5 separate regions of the Homo sapiens genome follow, and regions 2, 3, 4 and 5 are each reported to be linked to region 1. Evidence: microRNA targets listed by miRTarBase, many of them from high-throughput screens and not tested one by one. Region 1 holds a microRNA gene; each other region holds the end of a gene's coding sequence.

Evidence for each region. Region 1 holds the annotated microRNA hsa-miR-520c-5p (CUCUAGAGGGAAGCACUUUCUG, at 1,482-1,503, shown strand). A microRNA usually pairs through its seed, bases 2 to 8, with sites in the 3' UTR of a target mRNA and lowers its output. Matches are read on the target gene's strand: a 7mer-m8 pairs with bases 2 to 8, a 7mer-A1 pairs with bases 2 to 7 and ends in A, and an 8mer does both.
Region 2: the mRNA of RANBP6 is a reported target of hsa-miR-520c-5p. The part of its 3' UTR that is shown has no 7-base or 8-base seed match.
Region 3: miRTarBase lists TEF as a target of hsa-miR-520c-5p. The part of its 3' UTR that is shown has no 7-base or 8-base seed match.
Region 4: miRTarBase lists NFATC3 as a target of hsa-miR-520c-5p. Seed matches in the 3' UTR shown: 7mer-A1 at 2,003-2,009.
Region 5: the mRNA of TJAP1 is a reported target of hsa-miR-520c-5p. Seed matches in the 3' UTR shown: 7mer-m8 at 1,975-1,981.

What each region holds. Positions count from the first base shown.
Region 1 is chr19:53,704,785-53,708,362 of GRCh38, forward strand. MIR526A1 (microRNA 526a-1) reads left to right here and starts at 1,468; the gene lies at 1,468-1,552. MIR520C (microRNA 520c) reads left to right here and starts at 2,669; the gene lies at 2,669-2,755. LOC107985346 (a long non-coding RNA gene) reads left to right here. Exons shown (of 5, transcript XR_001753998.1): 3 at 1-61; 4 at 2,301-2,423; 5 at 3,485-3,525.
Region 2 is chr9:6,009,383-6,012,960 of GRCh38, forward strand. RANBP6 (RAN binding protein 6) reads right to left here. Exons shown (of 1, transcript NM_012416.4): 1 at 1,643-3,578. The coding sequence ends at 2,908. Among named protein-coding and RNA genes, the nearest start is that of BRD10, 2.7 kb to the left of the region's middle.
Region 3 is chr22:41,395,310-41,398,887 of GRCh38, reverse strand. It overlaps TEF (TEF transcription factor, PAR bZIP family member), which reads right to left. Exons shown (of 4, transcript NM_003216.4): 4 at 1-3,143. The coding sequence ends at 2,928. Among named protein-coding and RNA genes, the nearest start is that of TEF, 15 kb to the right of the region's middle.
Region 4 is chr16:68,225,898-68,228,897 of GRCh38, reverse strand. NFATC3 (nuclear factor of activated T cells 3) reads right to left here. Exons shown (of 10, transcript NM_173165.3): 10 at 1-2,548. The coding sequence ends at 2,427. Among named protein-coding and RNA genes, the nearest start is that of MIR6773, 6.1 kb to the left of the region's middle. RefSeq lists an enhancer at 1,412-1,461.
Region 5 is chr6:43,504,877-43,508,454 of GRCh38, reverse strand. It overlaps TJAP1 (tight junction associated protein 1), which reads right to left. Exons shown (of 11, transcript NM_001350562.2): 11 at 1,901-3,578. The coding sequence ends at 2,600. LRRC73 (leucine rich repeat containing 73) reads left to right here. Exons shown (of 6, transcript NM_001012974.4): 3 at 35-157; 4 at 529-629; 5 at 777-999; 6 at 1,147-1,487. The coding sequence ends at 1,217. Among named protein-coding and RNA genes, the nearest start is that of LRRC73, 3.7 kb to the left of the region's middle.

The sequences.
Region 1 (3,578 bases):
TATGCCGCCCAGGGTAGAATGTGCTCTCTCCCTCTCCTCTTCCTAGTATCTGGGACTACAGGTGAATATTTTAATCTATGCACAGGCAAGAAGAGGGCAAGGAGGGTTCTTTTGTTCTGTCTTTGACTTTGTGAGGCAGTGTCACTCTGTCACTCAAGCTGGAGTGCAATAATGTGATCTCGGCTCACTGCAACCTCTGCCTCCTGGGTTCAAGCAATTTTTTTTTTTTTTTTTTTTTGAGTCAGTATCTCACTCTGTCCCTCAGGGTGGAGTGCAGCGGCCCAGTCTCTGCTCCTGCAACTTCTGACTCCCAAGTAGGTACAATTGCAGACACGTGTCACCACGCTTGGCAAAATTTTTTTTGTATTTTTAGAGCTGGGATTTTACCTTGTTGGCGAGGCTGGTCTGGAACTCCTGACCTCAGGTGACTCGCCCACCTTGGCCTCCCAACAAGTTATGCTGATCTTGGTAATAACTTCGCAGAGCGTGCTTCCATCAGACATGGAGGATGGTGGGGTCCTGTTTTGTTGTTGTTGTTTTTCTAAGATAGGGTCTCTTGCCCAGGCTGGAGTGTGTTGGCACTTCCAACCTAGGTGTCTTGGGCTCAAATGGTCCTCTTTTTTCGGACAGTCTTGCTCTGTGACCCATGCTGGAGTGTAGTGACGTGATCTCAGCTCACTGCAACCTCCACCTCCCAGTTTTAGGCAGTTCTCCTGCCTCACATTCCTGAGTAGCTGGGATTATAGGTGCCTGACACCATGCCTGGCTAATATTTGCATGTTATTTATTCATGTATTTATTTGTTTTGAGATGGAGTCTCACTGTCACTCAGGCCAGAGGGCAGTGGCAGGACCTCGGCTCACTCAAACCTTTGCCTCTCAGGTTCAAGCAAGTCTTCTGCCTCAACCTCCTGAGTAGCTGGAATCACAGGCACCCGTCACCACGCCCGGTTACTTTTGTATTTTTTTTTTCACCATGTTGGCCAGGCTGGTCTGAAACCCCTGACTTCATGTGAGCCGCCCGCCTCAGCCACCCAAAGTGGTGGGATTACAGGCATAAGCCACTGCGCCCGGCCAACAATGTATATTTTTCAACATGGGAGATTCAGTTTTGAATGCTCCCATCGGGACTGTGTGTCCCTGTGCTGGAACTCAAGTGAACGCTTGGCTCAAAATCCATTGCTGTTCTCTAGAAATCCAGCCCAATTCTCTTGGTTAAATGTAAGGTATGTGTAGTAGGCAATGCTTTTTCTGGAGACAGAACTCAGGAGGATTGTCCCTCGATGATCTAGGCTAACCTGCTGAGACTTTGAAGCAAGGAACTGGAGATGGTCCTTTTAGGGTTTTATGTTCTGGATTCCAGAAAACATGCAAACAGGGCCAATAAATGCATCCTCATTTTTGTGTCCATTTTAACCTGGTGAAGGAAAATTCCAACAAAAAACCCACAGTGCTGGAGCAAGAAGAGCTCAGGCTGTGACCCTCTAGAGGGAAGCACTTTCTGTTGCTTGAAAGAAGAGAAAGCGCTTCCTTTTAGAGGATTACTCTTTGAGAAAAACAACATTGAAGTTAATGCTGATCTTGGAGATCATGCTTATAATCAGACTTGGATGATGTTGGGGTTTTGTGGGGTTTTTTTGGTTTTTTTTCCTAAGACAGGGTGTCTGTTGCCCAGGCTGGAGTATGGTGGCCCCTCCAACCTAGATCTCTTGGGTTCAAGTGGCCCTCTTTTTTGGGACAGAGTCTTGCTCTGTGACCCTGGCTGGAGCTCAGTATCAGGAACTTTGCTCACTGCAACCTCTGCCTCCCAGGTTCAAATGATTCTCCTGCCTCAGCCTCCCGAGCAGCTGGGATTACAGGCATATGCCACCACGCCCAGCTAATTTTTGTATTATTGTTATGTATTTATTTTTTAACTTATTCATTTTAGAGACAGAGTCTCACTCTGTCGCCCAGGCTGGAGTGCAGTGGTGCGATCTCGGCTCACTGCAACCTCCAACTCCCAGCTCAGCCTCCTGAATAGCTGTCTGCAGGCATACACCACCACACCTGGCTAACTTTTGGTTTTTTTGTACAGATGTGGTTTCCCCATGTTGCCCAGGTTGGTCTCGAACTCCTTAGCTCAGGTGATCTTCCACCTTGGCCTCCTAAAGTGCTAGGATTAGTGGTGTGAGCTGTTGTGCCCCACCTATACTCGTCTGTTTCTGCTCAGATTTTATTGAGGAGCGTTTACAGGGTAGCCTGTTGTCTACCCTGCAGGATGTTTGTGCCTACAACAGTGTATATTCTTCAACATCTTAGATTCCATTTCGGATGCCCCCATGAGGACTGTGCGCTCCTGTACTGGAACTCAAGCGACCACTTGGCTCAAAATCCATTGCTATTCTCTAGAAATCCAGCCCAATTCTCTTGGTTAAAGATAAGGTATGTGTAGTAGGCATTGCCTTTTCTCTTTGGGAACAAAACTCAGGAGGATTGCCCGTTGATGAACAAGGCTAACCTGCTGATTCTTTGAAGCAAAGAACTGCAGATGGTCCTTTTAGGGATTTATGCTCTGGATTCCAGAAAACATGCAAACAGGGCAAATAAATGCATCTTTATTTTTGCGTCCATTTTAACCTGGTCAAGGAAGATTCCCACAAAAAATCCACAGTGCCAGAGCAAGAAGATCTCAGGCTGTCGTCCTCTAGAGGGAAGCACTTTCTGTTGTCTGAAAGAAAAGAAAGTGCTTCCTTTTAGAGGGTTACCGTTTGAGAAAAGCAACATTGAAGTTGATGCTGATCTTGGTAATACATTTTCAGAGCATGCTTATCATCAGAGATGGATGATGGTGGGCTTCTGTTTTTGTTTTGATTTTTTCTTTTTTTTTTTTTTGAGATGGAGTTTCGTTCTTGCTGCCCAAGCACTAGTATGTAGGAATTATTCTTTATGTGAGCATATAGTACATGGAACTTTGTTTTTTTGAGACAGGGTCTCCAAAATATATACATGTTATCATATAATCTTCTATGTATAATTATATTCACACAAAATAGTCTTCTGCACACAGAGAATACTCTTATATCACTTTGGGGTTGTTTTTGTTTGTGTATTTTTTTTTTTTTTAATTTTTTTTGAGACACCATCTGGCTCTATTGCCCAGGCTGGAGTGCAGTGTTGTGACCTCAACTCACTGCAGCCTCTACCTCCCACCTCAGCCTCCTGAATTAGTGTCTACAGGCATGAACCACTACACCTGGCTATCTTTTGTATTTTTACAGATGAGGTTTTACTATGTTGGGCAGGCTAGTTTTGAACTCGAGCTCATGTAATTTTCCCGCCTTCGACTCCTAAAGTGCTGGGATTAGAGGTGTAAGCCACTGCACTCCACCCGTACTTCTGTACAAATGTTATTGAGGAGCTTTTACGGCCTAGGCAGTGCTCTATCCTGGAGAATGTTTGTGTGTAAGACAATGCATATTCTTTTTTTCTTTCCTGTCACCCAGGCTGGAGTGCATTGGCACGATCTCGTCTCACTGCAACCTCCGCCTCCCGGGTTCAAGCAATTCTCCTGCCTCAGCCTCCTGAGTAGCTGGGATT
Region 2 (3,578 bases), not on the chromosome of region 1:
GAATTACCTAAACACAAAAACAAAATTACAGAAATCATGCATTTTAAAAGTAAAATGTGTATAACTAAATGATTAGGATACTCTGACTCTTGCAATTGTTTACTTCTCATTAATGTGAACTTTAAAGCAGTGATAAAATTTTTTTTTAACCTCAAAGCTGTTTTTGTCCAGTAAGTTAAGTATCACTCTTAAGTAAAATAGTGAAGCGGGAACGCTCTGTTAGGGTATTCACACTGTCCTCCACACATACCTTTTATCTAGTATTCGAGGTCTCCTCTCATCAGACATTTGTAATATATAACGCATTTACAGGGTTCTCTCCCCTCAGAGAAGAGTCTGTGGACTCTGAAGAGTCCACAGAACCTCAGCTCACAGAAAGAAAAATGCAGGGATCAGTCTTACTTCAGCACCTGGCAACCAAAACGTGTGTCTGACTAGACATTCCTCCTTTCTTTCGACAAAGCCCAGGAATCTGAAGCCCAACGTACCCAAGCAAACATCCTCTACTCCTCTTTAGTCATCAGCTCTATTTCATGACTCTTGGACAATATTAGCTTACATTATTGAACCCTGTGCCACTAAGCACTTTATATTCATTGTCTCCTTTAATCTCACAACAAGCCTATCAGCTAGGTATTAACCTTATTTTTCAGATGAGGAAACTGCCTCTTAGTTTAAGAAAGTTGTTAAACAAAGTTAAAATCTAGGTCTGTCATACTTCAAAAACTCCAGGTGCCTAATTCCAAGTCATCTGGCAGAATTTCTAATTCCTCATACATAAAAGTGTAGGGAATTGCTAGAAATGTTGATAAAGGGTTTCTTAATTAAGATTATATAAAAGAGAAAGGTGTGGGTGAGTAGAAGGAACCTCAACTCTAGGTTATGAAGAGGTCAAGATGATAGCAACTTAACTATAATGAAAGTAGGATCGGGTCCTTGATCTTAAAAAAGAAACTCTATTACACAAGAAATATGGGCTGGGCACGGTGGCTGACACCTGTAATCCCTGCACTTTGGGAGGCTGAGGTGGACAGATCACCTGAGGTCAGGAGTTCTAGACCAGCCTGGCTAACATGGTGAAACCCCGTTTCTACTAAGAATACAAAAAATTAGCTGGGAGTGGTGGTGCGCACCTGTAATCCCAGCTACTCGGGAAGCTGAGGCAGAATTGCTTGAACCTGGGAGGCGGAGGTTGCAGTGAGCCGAGATCGTGCCATTGCACTCCAGCTTGGGCAACAAGAGCAAAACTACATCTCAAAACAAACAAACAAAACAAGAAATATGTTGGTTGTAGGTATGTAGGTAAATTAGAAAATATAGGTAAGTGAGGAGAAAATTTGCCACTTAATCCTACCACCTAGAGAAAACCTCTATTAATACTTTGAGGTGGGATTTTTCTATTCATTCTTCTATACTTTATTTATCTTAAATATACTAAAAATTGTGATCATACTATACATAATGTCCTTAATTTTCCTTTTTCCCCCATTAGTAATAATTACATGGAATGGACAGAATTGCATATCTAAAATCTCAACTTTATATTCTTGTCAACAATAGCCTAAATAGCCTGCCAATATGAATGAGTAGGGAATGGATTGGGAAAATTCTAAAGTAAAAGAAGTTCCAGACACAATAGAGGTACAAACAACAACAGCAATAACAGCTACAATTTATTGAGCACTTACTAGGTCTTAAATATTTGCTAAATACATACACAGTACTCACAATAGCCCCAGGAAATTATAGATGTATTTAAGTTTTGGATCAATGAGTAATCGTTAGCTGAGTAGAAAGCTCTTTTCTACCCTACAATAAGCTCGACATTAAAGACTGACATTCCAATTAATATAATTAACCCTGGACTTATAGAACTGTTTTCTCATAATAATGCACATCTACTGCTAAATGACTACTCTCAAAGTTGTTTTCTTTTTCATGTTCAAAGAAAATTACATTTCTTTCCTTTCACTTTTCCAATAGAATACTCTTCAGTTCTACTCTAGAATCTCTTAGGAAATTATTTGAAATAGAAATCAATTTAAGCCCTATAACTAGAGCTTTTTCTCTTGTTGAGCTGCTTTGCAGGGAGAAAATGGCATACATATACAAAATAATACTCTGCTGAAACACATAACACTGACTCCCAAGAATACTGCTTACTTACTCTTTGTCAAACACTGTTACATGCTACCAATATTAGATGTATCAGGACTCCCTTTTCAGTAACTATGGTTCTTGGAGTCCTGGATAACTTAAAAAAATAGAGACCTGTCTGGCTAAAGAAATTTAAAAGTTCTCTAACTCTCAACCAGACACCTTGGGAACTACAATATGGATATGTCCTACCCAGTTCCCAGGAGTACATTATGAAGAAGTTCATATACATCCCACATCCACTGCAGTATCTCAAAACTCTCCTAGTAACAGCATCCTCCCATCACCACAAATACCAAGAGTATTAATTAAAGAGGGACAAGCCTGCCACTATATCCTTCACTCACAATTCCAAAGATGTTTGTCCTGGAAATTCTATCTTATTTTTGTGAGCTCTTAGCATATTGTGATAGCATGACATCTTCACATCAAGTATACTGCTTGGCTAGCATCAATAATAGTTCAAACAAATAGCAACAATTTATATACTTTACATCAACTAGGGGAAAGGTGACAAACATTGTTTAAGACAGTTTGAAGCACAGGTTATCACCAAGGTCTGTGTTTGGAAGATAAAACATGCGAGATAAACAGAGGACTAACACTGATTAATTCTGGAGAAACATGGAGAAGAACTATAAACTGCTTAGCAGGGAGAAAACAGTTCTCTGATTTATAATAAAATCTATTCACAACACTTATTTGTAGTTACTTTTATAATAGATAATATTCAAGTTATATTAAAGTGCTTCAAGCAAAATTTAGCAACTCCTGTAAGGCTTCCTGCTGTTCATCATCAAGTTGTGATACACATTCCAACCATAAATCTTCAGAAGTCTGTACCTGACGCACGACATTAGCTAGGCGTTTGGCACAAGGATCCTCATAGTTAATAGTCTCATTAATTTTTCCTTCTGCAATTATACTGATTATTTTGGGAAGATTGGAATTATTTGGACCAATTACAACTGGGTGGTTACTTTCAATTAGGTCACAGAGAAAACTCAAAGTCTGAATAGCTTCCTCTTTATCTTCATGCAGTGGAAGCCATGATAACCAGTGTGGAAGAACTTCATCTACATTTACACAGTTAGGCTTAAACTTCAAAATCTTCCCTATTGCTGAGATACAGTTCTCTGTAGCAATGACATTTTTTTTGGTTTTGGAATTTGCACACTTAATAACTTTTACCAGAAGTGGAACAGCTTCTGAACATAAAGAACGATAATCATCTCCACCAAACTGTGCCATGACACCCAGGCCATAAGCAGCAGCTTGCCTGACTTCAGGGTTGTTATCTCGCATATTTAGTAGCATTGGCCACCGAAAATATTCTACATATTTAAATGAAGTTGGACTGCAGTGCTCTATGATGTCATCAAATATGCACAATCCCCACTGTCTGTCTGGCCATGGCCTAC
Region 3 (3,578 bases), not on the chromosome of region 1:
CGGCCCTTTGCGTTCCAAGGAGCACGGCTCCCGGGGCCCAGGTAGAGGGCTGCCCAGCTTCAGAGGGGTTTTCCCCCACTGGCTTGCATGCCTCCCGCCCTGCCTCAGGCCAAAGGACCGTAGGAGCGGCCTGCACAGCCCCTCAGCAGGGTTACATGTACCCAGACTTAAGGTTCACTGCTAAGTGCCCCCTCCAACCTCAGAAGCCAGACAGGAAAACCTCTTCCTTTGGCCAAGGGTAAGAGTTACCCAGGTCCTCCACAAAGTTGCCATAAACCTTGAAAACTCTCCCTCTCTCTAAATGCACACGTTCCTCCATCAGATGAGACATTTATAATATGAATATTCTTGCAAAGTTCCAGCTCATTCATGATTTGTCTGTTCTGAGGTTGCACTGAGGGTGCCACAAAGCTTTAGACAGGATGCTTAGGAAGTAGACGGCACTTCCAAGCCCATCGGGAACCCACAGAAAGCCAAGGTAAAGTCAACTTCTCTAGCCTCCAGTGACTGACAGATGTCAAAGATCCAAGCACAGGAGCCGCAGTCTCCAGCGGTCGGCCTCCAAGAAGCAGAGGGCCCAGGAGGGAGCCGAGGAGACTCCCATTCCCTCGACAGAAACTGAGCAGGCACCAACCCTCTCCTGCAAGCATGGATTTTTTTAGGACAGGAGAGGAGACAACCTTACCTGAGCACTTCTTTTCCCCCACAGGTCAGCCTCTGTGGACATCCTCCATCTTGTCCCCACCAGGCTCCTGACTCAGAGGGGCATTTCGAAAAGAGTCCAGCAGCCACACTCTTTCCAAGTAAGCACTTTGGGAAAGAACCCGATACCCACTGCCTGGGGGAAAGAAGGGAGGGCACCAAACAGGCAGAGGGCGGGATAAAGAGGAGACACATCGAGCCACCATCCCAGCCACCGGGCTCGGAACATGGACACCAGAGATTTAGTGTCCATCCTTAAAAAAATAAAACTGCAAAAACACAAACCATATACTTTCCGGCAAAGAAAATGAAGAGCTTTTAAGCTCAAGGCTCTTCCACTAATAACAAAATGAGAACCGCCCTCTTGGTGATCCACCAGGCCAGAGGGAGCGTGCCCGGGAGGGAGAGCTGCCCGGGGCAGGACACTGACATGCTGGATGCGCCTGCCCTGTGTGGTTACAATAGAGTGAAAGTGTGTACATGGTTTTTAGAGAACCACAAAGTAAAAGTCAGGGGCCTGGAGGGAGGAGTGACCTCCCTTGGCCTCAGGGCCCCTTGTCAAGTCCCCCGGAGAGGTGGGTGTGCAGGTCCCCAAAGGGCCGTGGCATTCCCCTGGGGTGAGGTCCACGGCTTGGTCTTAACGTCTGTTATGAAAAGTCTTTAGAGGTCAGGGCCTGGGACTCTGAACCACCACGGTAAATAAAGCCAGTGTTACGGAGGACGAAGCACGCCCATCGCCTCTGTCTCCTCTTCACCATAGGCTGCCCGCCCTGAGCAAATAAACACACCCATCTCAGGGGTGTCCCAGTGACCCAAATGAGCAGAGGCTTCCATGAGTTTCCTCAGTGAATCTTCTGAGCACAGCAAAAGGGCGAGTCCCGCCACACAAGAGAAAGGAGTCGTTGTGAGGCAGGGGAGACCACAGCTGTGAGAAGCCACAGCATGGCCAGCCTCACGAGTGGCCCCCATCTCCTGGGACCAAGACTGAGGGGACCCTAGGCCTGTGTAAAAGTCCCAAGAGCCTGCTATCCCGTGAAAGTGGCACTGTGACCTTGGTGACTCTAGACTAGGTGTCTTGCCCTGCTGACACCCTCCGGGCAGCTCGCATGGGAGAGATCCTGAAGCAAGAATTGCGAGGCCCCAGCTGCCCCCAGGGAGAGTGCACTCCAGCCCAGGCCACACCGGTGAGCAGAGCAAGAAAAAAGGGAGCTTCTCAAGAAACACACCCCAGCTCTCATGCCCATGGTGGAAGGGGGCTGTGGAGGCATTTTCTAAACACCACTAGGAAGGTGAATCCTGGGGTCCAGGAAGTTAAAGCCTCCTAGATAAGAGGGGTTTTCCTTTTAAATCTATGATCCAAGACTGGACATTGGGTGGAAAGAAAGAGCAGGCCCAGAGGCCTGGTCTAGTGGGACAAACGAGCTTCACATGGCCTCTGAGTAGCCTGGAGAGGAAATGAAGAGGCCTCTCTCAGCCCTGGCACTCATGGCTCAGACAGCAGCCATCCTAGGAGTCTCTCCTCCACAGCCAATGAAATGCAGAGACAGCCGATGGCCTCAGAGCCATAAGGGAAAAGGGGTGCGGGAGCCGAGAAACGCTGGGCACACTTCTGCTGCAGGCCCCAGCCCCAAGCCCCATCCCAGGCTGTGCAGAGACCCCACTCCTGCAGCCTGCTACCCATGCAGACACTGACGGAGGAGCTGGTGTGTCCTGCTTCCAAGGAAGATGGGAACAGATGTTACTCAAAGACTGTCTGGGGAGAATGAGGTGCGTGACAGACACACCTTAAGTGGAAACGCGCCCTGCTACCTGAGAAGACATAGGGTGACAATGATCACAACTCATTCTGCAGAGATAGCCCTCGGCAGCCCAGGCTGGAGACTGAGGGAGAGTCCAGGGACCCTGAGCGCCCAGGAGAGAGGTGTGTACTCCAGAGGTCCCCTTCTGATTCAACTGGGACATCCAAGAATAGAAACTAAGGCTGAGTCACCCATCTACGCAGATTCTCTTGCGTTCCCCACCAGTGAGGAGACTGGCCCCTCAGGGACGTCGCCACGTGCGCAGGCCATGGTATAATGAAGCTGAGACGTGGCCGCTCCTGCAGCAGGTGCGCCGCCATGCGCCCACGACGAGTCATAAGTCTCCACGCGTGTGAGGGGTTACAGGGAGCCCCCAGGCAGAGGTCTGAGGTGCAGGCAGTACCCCGCCCGGGCGGGGGGCACGGGTTACAAGGGCCCGTATTTGGTCTCATACTTGGACACGATGGTCTTGCACTTGCCCACCTCCTTGCGTAGCTCGGCCACCTCCGTCCGCAGGGCTGTGTTCTCCTTCTCCAGGAAGGCTGCCCGGATGGTGATCTGATTCTCTTTCAGGCGCCGGGCATCCCGTGACCGTTTAGCTGCCACGTTGTTCTTCTTGCGTCTTGTCCAGTACTTTTCATCCTGTGGGGAAGTGCCCTCTGTGAGTCTCTCGTCTTTCCCCACGAGAGAACCCAATTTTTCCACTCCCACCACCTGGATTCCCCTAACTCATCTGGTGTGGCCAGAGCTAAAGCAGGGATACCAGGGAGGGAGCAGCACAAACCAGGGCACATTGAGGGCACTGCCCTTTCCTCGGGGGCAGGACGAGAAACAAAAGTTATTTGGTACGTTACATGGTGAAGAGAAGGAGACTCATCTCCTGGAGGCCTGGTACCTGCTGCTCCAGCACAAAGCATTGCACTGTCCACACCCTTGCCTTACTTAGGCATGTTGGTTGTGGGTAAGGGCCTAGATCCCCGAGTTCAGATCTTGGCTCTCCAAGATTACTAGCAGTGAAACTGTGCAAGTACTTTAACCCCTCAATATCACAGGTCCCTTATCTTTACACTGAGAAAT
Region 4 (3,000 bases), not on the chromosome of region 1:
GACATGTTCTTTTTAAAGCTGTTTTCAGCCATGTTTCTCTGTGCATCTCCAGTAAGCAGAAGGCTACCCATTCCATTCCTCAACCCAAGAGCTAGCACAGTTAGAGTAGGAGGGGGTGCGTACTAGCACGTGCCCAGTTGCTCAGTGCTGCTAGTAGAAATTGATTTGCATAGTCCAATGGATGTGTGCTTTAACACCACTATGTTGCACAAAAATTTAAGTCTTTATCTACAAAGCCAAAAAATATTGACTCTTAACACCAAAGCTTTTACAAAGCTGATATAAAACTGCTTACATAGTATACAAAGCTCTATTTTAAAATTTAATGTTTATTTTAAATAGGAAAGCATTTCTAGTGCTACAGGCATCAAGGTATTTAGAAGGCATCAAAATTTGGTGCATAGCAACTCTGGATCATAGAGGCTTTTAATTCTTGAGGGCACAAAGGGTATTGCAAGGGGAACTCTTGCAATAACCTCATGTGAGGCAGCTACACCAGGGGCAAAAGGGTAGGGGCAAGTCTGGCCATTTCTCTGGAATGTCAACCGAGAGGCCAACTTCTTGCCCCTCCAAAGGAAGCTGTGGGCGTCCAACCACAGGCCCAGAAGCAAATCTCACTATCCACATTCTGTGACACAACTCACTTTTCAAGAAAATTTGAAAACACCCAGCTCCAAGAGGGGCCACAGTGATCTGCTGAAGAATAGACCTTTTTCTCTAACTAACTTTAGGGGAGAAATCTAAAATATATTTTGTTTTTTTTAAAGACCATACTTCCTCATCCTGAGTCAACAGCTCCTAACCTACTGACAACAGGTGGTGGGCAATAGGCCAGCTCCCTTTCCCAGACCTGAACTGGCCTTAGTAGAGAGAGTCCTGGCATCAAGGGCCTGCAGTCTCCTGGAATAACAGCATCAGGCCTTCAACCAGCACACTGTCTCACATATAGGCACTCAAAAAATCTGCTTCCTGAATCAATGGAAGTATATTATTTCATTTGAAAGCATACTGCAAACTTCAGAGGCTCTGTAATGGGCCCAGGAACAGGTAAAAAAAATCCCATTAGGGAGAGGGGTAAGGGCAGGTTTTTTTTTTTTTTAAAGTACCCAACTCGGGTACCTCCTTTGGTAGACAGCAGGCTGCAGTTTCTGCTGGGCCCTGCCTTGGACACCAGTCTCACCAGCAGCAGCACCAGGGTGTCTTTGGTGTGGAGGGTCAGGTTATCACTTCTGGATGTGCTCAGAGCCTTCTGGGGAAAAGGCTGGTTTTTAGATCATACAGACAGGACAGGGTAGGCCAGAATCATTTCAGGCTATAAATAGAATGGCAGATAAGCCTTCCATGCCAGTGTGACTCTTAAAACCTTCCCATCTGGAGTCCTGTATTTTCTCTGCCCATGCTGATGTACTGCTCATTTGTGCTTTAGCTCTGCACACAGCCTGGCCTCTAGCTAGAGTTAGAACTGCAAAGCTGCCTAAACCACTGAGACTGGCTTCAAAGGTCACAGAACAGCCAAAGGCAGATGCTTCTGTTTGGAAAAGGTTCTACGACCAGATGACACAAACAGGAAGCGCACTCCACAGCCTACTAGTTTTTATGATGGCAAGAAATGAAAGTGACCAAGCTAGAACCCCACCATTCAGAGTCACCTTAAATGTAGCCATCTTACCCAGGGTCCTGAGGGAAAAAGCAATTTCAACATGGAGCCAGTATGGAGAGATTGCAAGATTACCTAGAAAGTTACCAAAAGGCTATGCTCTGGAATGTCTTTTTATATTCCAACACTTCAATGATGGAATGGTCTCTTCTCATTTTATCTAACAACAGTTTAGTTTTATAAAGAGGTATGAGCTACATTTGGCTTTATTTCCTATAAATCTATGAACGTCTTCAGGACACATGCTGACTTTCTGAGGCATAGGTGTGGGCTTGGGATATTTTTTTCTTTTTCTTTTTTTCTTTTCTTTTTTTTTCTTTTTTTTTTTTTTTTTTTTTTTTTTGCTTCTAGAAGGTCTTATCAAAAGTTCCTATTTTAAAAATTATCATAAAAACTAAAGGGCCCTTCAAATGACCATAAAGCAGTACAAATCACCAATCCTAGCTAAGTAACCAGGTCACCTGCAAAAGCAGCACCTCGGAAACAAGAGAGCCTGCTGCATTCACACTCAAAGCACCCATCATATAAAAGTATCCTAGTTAAATATAAAAAGCAAAGTTCATTTCCCCAAAGCTCAAACAGCCTATGCTGCTCCTGTTCTTTTGCCAAATCTACCCAAGGCCTGAGGTGGAGGAATGCTACTTTCCCCACAAATGGTGGGTCCCACTCCTGGCCCCAGACCTGAAGGCTGCAGAGTTGGAAACCCAAGGTCCAAGGAGAGAAACATGCTGAGAAGTTGGTGGTGGACACAAGGCTGCAGTAAGCACTGTTAGAGCCCATCAGATCTTCCTAAATCCAGGGACTCAGGACTCGGGAGGGGAGCCTGCCTGCTCACCCCTGCTCCTTGGGAAACAGAAATCTGGGACATGTCTCTCCCAATTATCTCGTTCACTGAAAAACAAGAAAAGGGAGAGTGATTAGTGACCTCTGAGTGATTAGCCATATGATGCCCAACGCTGAGCTCTACCTCAGACATTTCCCTTCCCATGGCTTTCTGTAAAGATAAAGGCAGTGTCTGAAGCCTGCTCCTGAGCTGAGTGGCATTAGAGATGGAAACATCGCTCCACAAACTACTCTGGACCTCTTTTTCTCTCTCATTCAGTTCATTTTGGGTTGGGAAGGGGGCTTACCCTCACTCTAAAGGTATGTTTAAATAAGTATTCACCTTACTCTAACTTTTCTTTAATTCATATCTCTTTGAGAAAGTTTTTATTTTCTACAATGCCACCTCCTATGTAAATGGAATGAAAATAAATGCTTTGGTCAGAATAAACCACTGTGATGTGGGGGTGATTTTGCTACTGTATCCTAATACAAGCACTCTTTATTATGTGGGGGCATTT
Region 5 (3,578 bases), not on the chromosome of region 1:
CCCTATTCTGGTTTCTTGCTATGATGCTGCCCAGGCTTGAAGGAGCTAACGCTGAGTGCCAACCCTGGCATCACCCCTAAGGGCTGGAGCCGCCTTGCCATTGCCGTGGCCCACAGCTCCCAGGTCCGCGTCCTCAATCTGGATTACAACCCCCTGGGTGAGGCTCAAGAATACCCCCTTGGGCTGTCACTGCCTCATGCCCTATCCAAGAGCCTGGGACCATCAGTTGACATGGTAACCCGTACACTGGGAGAGGGAAGAGAAACGGGAGCCCCCAGGGGTCAAGGAGATAGCTTTGTGGCGGACCAGGTGACCAACAAATAGATCAAAACATCAGTCACCACCCGTGGGCCTAACTTGCTTCGTGCCTTCACTCACCAATCACAATGATCCCTTCCTGACCACCACCAATTGTCCATGTTTCCTTGGCCAGGGATTAGTATCTAAAGTTGTTAAGGCAATGGGGAAGCTATCTGTAAGGATTAGCAGGCATGTGTATGAATGTGTGCACGTGTGTTGTCTCCCCAGGTGACCATGTGGCAGGAATGCTGGCTGTAGCTGTGGCCTCTAGTCGTACCCTAGAGGTCCTAGACTTGGAGGGCACAGGGCTCACCAACCAGTCAGCTCAGGTGGGAAGTCGTCATGTTTGGGCACGGCCAGGGGATGGGGTGGAGGTTAGTTTATGTGTCTGATGACATACCTAAGGCATGGCAGGTTGAGGTCTGAGGACCTGCCTTAACTGTGTTCATCCTTTTCCATATTCTTCCCCACTTCAGACCCTGCTGGACATGGTAGAAAATTACCCCACAGCTTTGCGGAGCCTGGTGTTGGCTGAGAACAGCATTAGCCCAGAGCTGCAGCAACAGATCTGTGACCTCCTCTCTGAGGGAGAGGAGGAGGAGGAAGTGGCAGGAGGGGCTGGCGACACCCAGGAATGGGAGAGAGGGCGGGAGCCTGCTGCCCACCAGAGAGGCAGCAGCTCCTGGATGTGCCCCAGCGGTAAGAACCCAGAGGGTTGATCAGAGCCAGGTCTGGAAGAGGCTCGGGACAAGGGAGAGTGGGTGTGCAGAACCTAGGCTCTCACCTATCTGTGGTCCCCATTGGAGGAAGGAATGGTGGTCTGAACACTTCTCTGCCCTTCCACAGATCCCAGCTCTCAGATGGTGCTAATGACGTCAGGACTAGGGGACAGTCTGTTGGCTGAGACCGAGATGTGACTCTCCACTGGGCCTCTGCACACCATTTCACTTATCTATGTCCCGAGCACCTTGCCCCAGATATCAGGGTCAGGCCCTGGGACTTGGGAGGGAACTGGGGTCAGGGGCTGCATGGGGGCTCTGGCAGCTCCTGGCAGTGTGGTGGGAAGGAAGCTCTGGAAGCTGTGACTGAGCAACAGCCTTGGGGGGCACTTGAACCCACGGCAATGCCTTTGAACTTGGCAGCTCTGGCTGCAACCCGCTGGCTCGGAAAAGATTTTATGAACTCCACAACCTGTCGTGTGGCTGTAGTCACTTGGGGCCGGCAGTAGGGGAGGAATTGGAACTACCAGTAAGCACCACTAGGGGGCAGTAGCATCGCACAGCCCAAGCTCTAAGCTGCGTGACCTGGTCCAGGATCTCAAAATAGGCCTGGCCAGGCCTAGAACCCAGGCCTCTGAGGCAACACCTTACACTAGCCCCATAAAGATATGGTCCCTGCCTCCGAGGGAAGACTCAGGAACCCTGCTAAGGTTACTTAAGGTGCCCCCTTTCCCGCTCCCTGATGCTCTGTGCCTAGGGAAACCCTAGGCAGAGTGGGGCGAGGGGGAGTCACTAGCCGACTAGGATGAGACTAGGACTGGGAATACTTATGAATGGGGAGAAAAGTGGGAGAGGGGAGGTCATTAAGACAAGTTAGGCCATACCAGTAAAATAGTTTTATTTGATTTTAAAATAGTCATCAATGTGAAAATTTCTCAAAGCTTAAGAGTAACAGTCTAGAGCCAAGGTTGGGAGTGGGGGCCAGGCCTCACACAGAGCCCAGCTTGAGGCCCCTGAGCCCCACCCTCCTTTCCAGAGGGAGGGAGGAGACAGCTGAGGGGGCCCTGAATCAGTCCTCTCCCTCGTCCCCAAGGCCAGCTGTGCCAGGCCCCTGGAGGGCAACAGCTCATGCGGAGGACTGGGGGGGGAAGCAAACAGGTAGGAAACGGAAATGAGGTTAACAATTACACCATCACCCCCAAAAAAAAACAAAATAACAAAACTTGTGACTATGAAAGGATGGAAGATGAATACTGATAAACTCCTCAGCTCCCCAGAAAAGCCCAGTCTGGGCTGGGTTGGGCTGATTGGAGGAAAGGTCTTGAGACCCAACTGCATGTTACCTCTGAAGAATAAATATTCTAAGAAAAAGGGAAAACCATGAGGCAAGCTGCTGCAGTCAGTCAACGCAGCTGACAGGCCTGGCATGGCCCACAACCTGACCCCATCCACACAGGAAACAGCTGTGCGGGTCTGGATAGAGGAGAGGTCAAGGGCTTGGACTGGGGACCCTGAGCTGCCAAGGTGTGGGGACTCCTTGCAGTCCTGGTGCAGCAATGGCAGGAAGGCCAGCAGGGGCCCTAGTTGAGCAGGTTGCCCTGCTCCTGGGCCTGGGTCAGGCTGTCCTTGCGGTGCAGGTGGTGAACCCCCATCCTCTTGGGGCTGCGCTGGGGGCGACTGGAGCTGGGGAGTGGCCAGGCCCTGCCCTCGGTGTGGGAAGTGCCTGGCCCCTCCTCTGTGCCCCTGTTAATGGGCAGCAGGCTCTGGCGCTCTTCCTCAGGACTGATAGGCAGGTTCAGCTCTTCTTCCTCCCTGGGAAAGCCAGAGTCAGGTTCTGTGGGTAGCAAAAGCTCACTCTCTTCGGGTCGGGCAGAAGGTGCCTGGACCACCTCATCTCTGTCAGCGGGGCTATGGGCAAAATGGCGCTGCAGCTCAGGGAGGGCATCGCGTCCAAAGGCTGTGCGCTGGGCCACAGCAGCAGGTGGTGGAGTACGGTCCACAAATGCCCGCTGCCAGCTGACCAGCAGGTCCTCTTCAGAGCTGGCAGAGCTAGCTGGGGCACTGAGTGTTAGGGGTGCTGGGCTGGGCTGGTGGTGGGGTGAGGCCTGGGCTGAGGCAGGGGTGCTGGGCACTGGGCTGGGGCGGGCCCGCTCACTCCCCTCCTCTACCAGGCTCAGGGAAATGGCCTGGCGGGTAGCGTAAGTGCAGTTGGGCAGGGGGCTGTTGCGGGGGATCCGAACCTTATCCTCAGAGAACTCTATTACCCTGCGGCCAGGATACAGTGGGTGTGGTGGAGACGGGGTTGGGTAGGGGTTCAGCTTCTCAAAGGCTGGCAGGGGCAGCTCTTCCTCCGGGGAGCCCCTGGCAGTACCCAGAGAGTGGCACTCCCCATTGGGTTGTGGGGTGGGGCTGCCAGGGGCCGGGGGACTGGCTGGATCACCTGGGACACCCTCACTCATGTCCACATGCACAAAGACATCCTCAGCCAAGGGGCGCCCGGCGCTGCCTGACTGGGCTGAATTGAGCAGTAGAGACTCCGGCTTCTCTAACACTCGGGCA